Homo sapiens: one gene and its partner. The protein of the gene in region 2 purifies or fractionates together with the protein of the main gene of each other region. This does not show direct contact. Each region holds a gene or a part of one and is shown on either strand. Other genes may lie near its edges.

What was found.
Region 1: the proteins of KANSL2 (region 2) and KAT14 purify together in Homo sapiens (affinity purification with mass spectrometry, with the first as the bait; one large-scale study listed by BioGRID). This does not show direct contact.

Annotation. Positions count from the first base shown.
Region 1 is NC_000020.11:18,161,863-18,165,362, reverse strand, and holds part of KAT14 (cysteine-rich protein 2-binding protein), read right to left. Parts: coding exon 3,124-3,500; intron 2,987-3,123; coding exon 2,418-2,986; intron 1-2,417. UniProt on the Homo sapiens protein: Component of the ATAC complex, a complex with histone acetyltransferase activity on histones H3 and H4. May function as a scaffold for the ATAC complex to promote ATAC complex stability. Has also weak histone acetyltransferase activity toward histone H4.
Region 2 is NC_000012.12:48,661,739-48,665,238, reverse strand, and holds part of KANSL2 (KAT8 regulatory NSL complex subunit 2), read left to right. Parts: intron 1-3,500. UniProt on the Homo sapiens protein: Non-catalytic component of the NSL histone acetyltransferase complex, a multiprotein complex that mediates histone H4 acetylation at 'Lys-5'- and 'Lys-8' (H4K5ac and H4K8ac) at transcription start sites and promotes transcription initiation.

The sequences.
Region 1 (3,500 bases), on a different chromosome or scaffold from region 2:
AACATATGCTTAAGGGGGACACAATTCAGTCCACAACAATGACCCAGAATGACTATTTAGCTTATCTTCTCCAGGAAACTTCATCTAATAGTGGCAATTTACTTACACAGCTAGATTTATGCTTGCTACTCAGTATTTTTTTAAACGAAAAGTATATCATTTAGAGACATACACATTTAAAAAGCAAAAGAATAATTAACACTGTAAGTCAAAGTGGCTTCCTCTGAGGGGAACAGAAAGTACACAGGAGACTTCTAAGGTGTTTACAACACTCTTTATCCAGGAGATGAATACATGGGCATTTATTTTACTAATATCTAAATTATACCATATTTCTATGCTGCCTTCTATCTGTATGACACATCTTACAATTTAAAAAATTAAGTATAGGCAGTAAACAGACAGGCCCACAAGAATAAGAACAAAGAACAGGTGAATATTGGCCAGGCGCAATGGCTCATGCCTGTAATCCCAGCACTTTGGGAGGCTGAGGCGATCACTCGAGCCCAGGAGTTTGAGATCAGTCTGGGCAAGATAGTAGGACCCTGTCTCTACTAAAAATAAAAATTAAAAAAAAAATTAGCTGAGTGTGGTAGTGTGTGCCTATAGTACCAGCTACTTGGGAAGCTGAGGTGGGAGAATTGCTTGAGCCTGAGAGTTCGGGGCTGCAATGAGCTGTGGTTGTGCCACTACATTCCAACCTGCGTGACAGAGAGAGACCATGTCTCAAAAAAAAAAAAAAAAAGAACAAGAACAAGTGAATAGATGACTAACAAAAGCATATGAACAAGCAGCAAATGACTTAACAGACCAAAGAAAGCCAATACCTAAGCCAGTGGTGAAGCTAAGCAGGGTGATTTACAAAACACAGCCTCAGGGAAGTGTAGTCACCTAAGGCATCAGGCTTAGAGCCTGGGGGGTATGACTATGGATTGTGAGGCTCTTTAAGAGGTTAAAGGCTCCAATTATACCCCTATAGTAATTATACTGCCCACATCTAGGAAATGATCTTTCCCTCCACGGGCAGAAGACTGGAGAGGCTCAAGAGGGAGATTCTGGACACAGGAAGCCAAGGGTGGGAGTACTGTACTGAAGACAGGGAGAGTCAGTTTACCTCCTAAACGATGGGCTCCTGGGCCCTCCCGACTTGGCTCCTGGTAGGCAGGCCAGTTAATACTGTGCTTCCCAGGAAAGATGGGAATTAGGAAAAAAAAGAAAAGAGGATCTATCTGGAGTAGGGATCTTGGTAAACTATAGCCCCCAGGCTAAATCCAGTCCACTGCCCATTTTAGTAGATAAAGTTTTACTGGAACACAGCCACACTCATTCACTACGGCTCTCCAATCACAACAGCAGAGTTGAAGAGTTCCGAATGAGATTTTGTGGCCGGCAAAGCCTAAAATAATTACTATCTGGCAGAAATACTTATTTCTTTACAGATAAAGTTTGCCAACTTTTAATCTACAGGGTCCAATATCCAAATAATGGGGAGTTCTAAAATGAGAGAACAGAAAAAATAGAAGATAGGAAATCAAGACTTTTCCATACTCAGGAAAGAAAGTTTCAAATTGAAAGGGCCCACACACCACATGTCCAGCACAAGGAAAGACATAAGCCCTACATACGGCACATCACTGAATAATACCAGAACACCAGCAATGAAGAGCAGATCCCACTAGCTTCCAGAGAAGAGAGAAAAACATGCAGACTCCAAACAGGCAATTCACAAAGAAACAACCAGGAAATTTAACCTCACCTGTAACCAAAGAAATATAAATAAAAAACAAGATTTCACTTTACAGCCAGCCAATTAGCAAAACTTAAAGGCTGGTTAGTGTCAAGTGCTAGCAAAGATAAAGGGAATAAGGCCTCTTGTTCCTCCCAGTGGGAGAGTATATACAGGTAGTTCTAAGTGGAATTAATTGTTCCCAGAAGCATCCACAAAATTTGGGTTCCACCGACCATCCTTTGAGCAACACTGATACCACACTGATCCCTTGGCTGCTATTTCTTCATGTTGTCCTTCGCAGATGTCTACACACCTTCAGATCCTCTGCAACACAGTGTCAGAGACACCGTCATGGCCTCAACAAATTTGTCAAAGCTACGACACAAACCATGCATATCTATCCTCAGAGAGAGAGAGACAAGAGAGACAGATGAAGAAAACTTATAGGTTATGTTTGAATGCCTAAAGGAAAAGAAAAACTCAGATGTATTCAGGTGTACTTACAATGAACAATTCTGAAAAATAAAGCCCAGCGATTTTTGTATTTTTTTCCCTTGCACTTTACTTTTCTCTTCCCAAATTACTCAGGATTTAAAAGGTCACAGCATAACCATGTCCAATGCCTAGTGCTGCCTGCCCCACCTCCACTCCTGCCCCCAAGGGCTTTACAGCAAGTGCTTGCATTCACCTGGTATCGGTCAAGGATTCTGAAGTCCTGACAGGTGGTTCTGTACGTGGCTTGTCCAGCTGGAAGTCTGGAAATTCCTCCTTCTTTGGCTCCATAAATCCCGTCAACTAACAAAAGAGCAGCATTAACAACTTGATCCAAGTCAAAAAGTGGTAATCCCCTATCCCTTTTCGCTTGTCTGACAATCAGTTTGCGTTTCAGTCTCCGAGCTTCCGGAGTCATGGCAACAGCACCGGGACAAGCTTCCAGCCTCTTGAGCAGCAGCTTTTCCTCGTAGATGCTCACGGGAGTATACCTGGGCTCTTTCGGCTTTGTGTCCTTCTCCAGCTGAGGCTTCCTCTTTTCTCTAGCCCTTGTTTGCAAAGATGTGTTTGAATCTGTGTCTTCACTGTCAATATCCATCCTGTCGGGTTTTTCCTCCTCACTCTCTACCTCCTGCTTTATCTGTTCAGGGCCTCTGACCTTCTTTCTGACCCCAACCACTGGCCCAGAAGCTACTGACCCAGCAGGGGGTGGGACGTACTCCATCCCTGGGTCTATGACTCCATCGCCTTCCATCTCATCGTCATCTGTGCAGAGTACAAAACAGTGTCATCAAGACATAGGAAGGAAGAAATGCAGAGCACACAGCCCACGGGGTGAAAACTTGTACATTTATACCATGGCCCATACCCAAAATAAAAGAGCAAAGCAAACAAACTCTTACCATGAAACAAGGCTTGTGGGGGCATCACATCTGGAATCAGATCTGCTTCTGAAAGCAAGCTAGGTGTGGCAGAATGAGAGGCAGGTGTACCAGGGGCAGAGAAATCCAGAGAAGGAGAAGGAGATGGGCTTGTCAGCGGGGTGCGGTCAGAGGAGCTCAAGGAGGAAAAGTCAATCACTTCGCCTTTTTCCAGAATCACATCTGGCCTGCGGCCTCGGCTTATGAATTTTACAGGGGTAGAAGATGTGCTCCTGTCAAGAAAGCCAGCGGCCTCCTTCTGGGCTCTTCTAATGTCTTTTGCTTCCTGAGTTCGAGACCTTTTCTCTTTTAATTCCATGGCAGATTCCACAGGATTCCGACTTGCTCGTTTTCTAAGT
Region 2 (3,500 bases):
AGTCTTTTGACAGGAAGCTGATTTTTATTTTGCTTATTAAATATTTTACTAATTTATTAATTACAACAGATGTCTGATAAGAGATTATTGTTCTTAATATATAAAATGGTTGTGCAAAGTAATGAAAAACTCTAAAGATAAATGCTTACAGCCTGGACAATACAGTAAGACCTCATCTCTAAAGAAAAAGAAGAAAGAAAAATTATCTGGTCACGATGGCATGTGACTGTAGTCCTAGCTACCTGGGAGGATTTTTTGAGCCTAGGAGTTTGAAGCTGAAGTGAGGATCATGCCACTGCATTCTACTTTGGGTGACAGAGGAAAACCCTGTCTCTAAAAAAAAAAAAAAAAAAAAAAAAGCGGGCGCAGTGGCTCACACCTGTAATTCCAGCACTTTGGGAGGCCAAGATGGGTGGATCACGAGGTCAGGAGTTCAAGACCAGCCTGGCCAAGATGGTGAAACCTCATCTCTACTAAAAATACAAAAAAAACTAGCCAGGCATGGTGGCGGGTTCCTGTAATCCTTGCTACTTGGGAGGCTGAGGCAGAGAATTGCTTGAACCTGGGAGGTGGAGGTTGCAGTGGGAGGAGTTCACGCCACTGCACTCCAGCCTGGGCAACAGAGTGAGACTCCATCTCAAAAAAAAAAAAAAAAAAAAAAGGCCAGGTGCGGTGGCTCACGCCTGTAATCCCGGCACTTTGGGAGGCCGAGGCGGGCAGATCACGAGGTCAGGAGGTCGAGACCATCCTGGCTAACACGGCAAAACCCCATCTCTACTAAAAATACAAAAATTAGCCGGGTGCGGTGGTGGGCGCCTGTAGTCCCAGCTACTGAAGAGGCTGAGGTGGGAGAATGGCATGAACTTGGGAGGCGGAGCTTGCAGTGAGCTGAGGTTTTGCGCCACTGCACTCCAGCCTGGGCGACAGATGTGAGACTCTGTGTCAAAAAAAAAAAAAAATTGCTTAAAACATAATTGGGCAGAGGCTATGGGCAGATTTAAAAGAAGATAGAAAAGGCTAATAGGGCCGGGCAAAGTGGCTCTCACCTGTAATCTCAGCACTTTGGGAGGCTGAGGTGGGTGGATCACCTGAGGTCAGGGGTTCGAGACCAGCTTTGCCAATATGGTGAAACCCCATCTCTACTAAATATACAAAAATTAGCCAGGCGTGGTGATGGGCACCCGTAATCCCAGCTACTCGGGAGGCTGAGGCAGGAGAATCGCTTGAACCCGGAAGGCGGAGGCGGTGAGCCGATATCGTGCCATTGCACTCCAGCCTGGGCGACAGAGTGAGACTCTGTCTCAAAAAAAAAAAAAAAAAAAAAAGGCTAATAGTTAAAAGTGTGTATCTTCACTATAAATACAGTTGGCCTTTGAACAATTCATGGGGTTAGGGTGCTGACCCCCTACACAGTTGAAAATTTGTATATAATTTTTGATTCTCCCAAAATTTAACTGCTAATAGCCTTATGGCTTACTGTTGATCAGAAGCCTTATCAACAACATAGCTTCCTAACACATATTTTATATGTTTATATGTCTTATATATTGTGTTCTTAAAATAAACTAGGAAAAAGTGTTACTAAGAAAATCATAAGAGAAAATATATTTACTGTTTATTAAATGGAAGTGGATTATCATAGAGGTCCTTATTCTCATGGTCTTTTTGTTAAGTGGAGGGGGAAGTGTTATTGTCTGTGGGATGACAGAGGCAGAAGAAAATGCACGTGTAAGTAGACCCGTGCAGTTCAAGCTTGTGTTGTTAAAGGTCAACTGTAAATAGGAAATAAGGAAAATTAAAAATCTATAAAATTGATATTTGTACATATATTTGTTTTAAAATAAAATTTAAAATATACAATTTTTCAAAAATGAGTCAGTGAATTTCAAAAGTAGGTGAGAGTATGGTGAAATTGACCCTTCTAAATATTGCCAGTGGGAATATAAATAGATAAAAGCTTTTTGGAAAGCAATCTGACAGTAATTCATATTTCCTCATATGGTAATTTTTACCTCTGGGAATTTATTTTAAGGAGATAATCAAATGCAGACCAATATTTTTACATGAAATATTCTTCCAACTTGAGACAGCCTTAACATTTTTAGAGCTGGAGAATAGGTAGATAAATTAATGACACAACATAGTGTGGAATATTTTCAGGCATTAAATATATTTAACAGAATTTATGAATGACAGCAAAATGATAGTGACATTCCAGGATATGGAATTCTGTACGGTGTCTGAAATTGCATGAAACCAAATACTGGAAGGGAACAATACAGAAATGTGATAATTTGTGCATGGTGTGGTTGTGAATGCCCTTTTTTCACTGTTCTTTTATTTTTTGTTTTTTTAAGGCGAGCATGAATTACTTTTATAAGGGAAAAAACTCAGTTTACAGATACTAAGGACTATTTTAGATATTATAATACTGTAGTCAAATAGCTTATTAAAATATAAATATAAAGCAAAATTGAAAATGTATTTGAAAAGAGAAGGGAAGTATTTTTTTTCCTTTTATGCTCTTTCCTTTCCACTCCATAGTTGCCTAAGTCACTTACCCTTCCTTAAGTCCTTATCCCAGAGAAAGATGCGACTGCCATTGGTGACCTGTTAACTCTTTACTGTGGTCTAATGGAGACAGCACTCGACTGAAAGTGAAGGACCCAGACTCTAGTTGTAGGTTAACCATTCCCTTCTTTTTACCTCTTTTGCCCCATCTGAAAGGAAAGCGGGTGGAGGATGATGGGGGGAGTCCTTTTTTAGGATATTGTGGTATTAAATACATAAGAGACTTGTGAAAGTCCTTTGAATTCCAATAAAAAAAAGTTCTTGGCCAGGCGTGGTGGCTCACGCCTGTAATCCCAACACTTTGGGAGGCTGAGGCGGGCTGATCACCTGAGGTCAGGAGTTAGAGACCAGCCTGGCCAACATGGCGAAACCCTGTCTCTACTAGAAGTATAAAAATCAGCCGGGTGTGATGGCAGGTGCCTGTAATCCCAGCTACTTTGGAGTCTGCGGCAGGAGAATCTCTTGAACCCAGGAGGCAGAGGTTGCAGTGAGCCGAGATCACGCCACTGCATTCTAGCCTGGGTGACAGAGCGAGACTTCGTGTAAAAAAAATTTCTGGTTGAAACATTTAATGGATAATATTTTAAATATTAAGAGTGGGCTTCTTAAGCACATTAGATATTGCTTAGATTTTCTTAAGCGCATAGTGCAAATCTGATGATTCCCATTAGATTCATATGTTTATTCATTTGATCATTCAATAAATATTTGTTTGCCTTGTACTATCTTCTGTTTCTTTAGAGTAGTGGTTTTCAACTGGGGGCCATTTTGTTTTCCAGTTGGCAATGTGTGGAGAAATTTTTGGTTGTTACAACTCAGATGGAGGTGCTACTGACAGCTAGTGGATAGAGGCCAGGAATGCTGCTATACATCCTTCTTCCAACAAAGATGTACCTGGCCTACAGTGTTGGTAGTGCCACAGTTGTCAC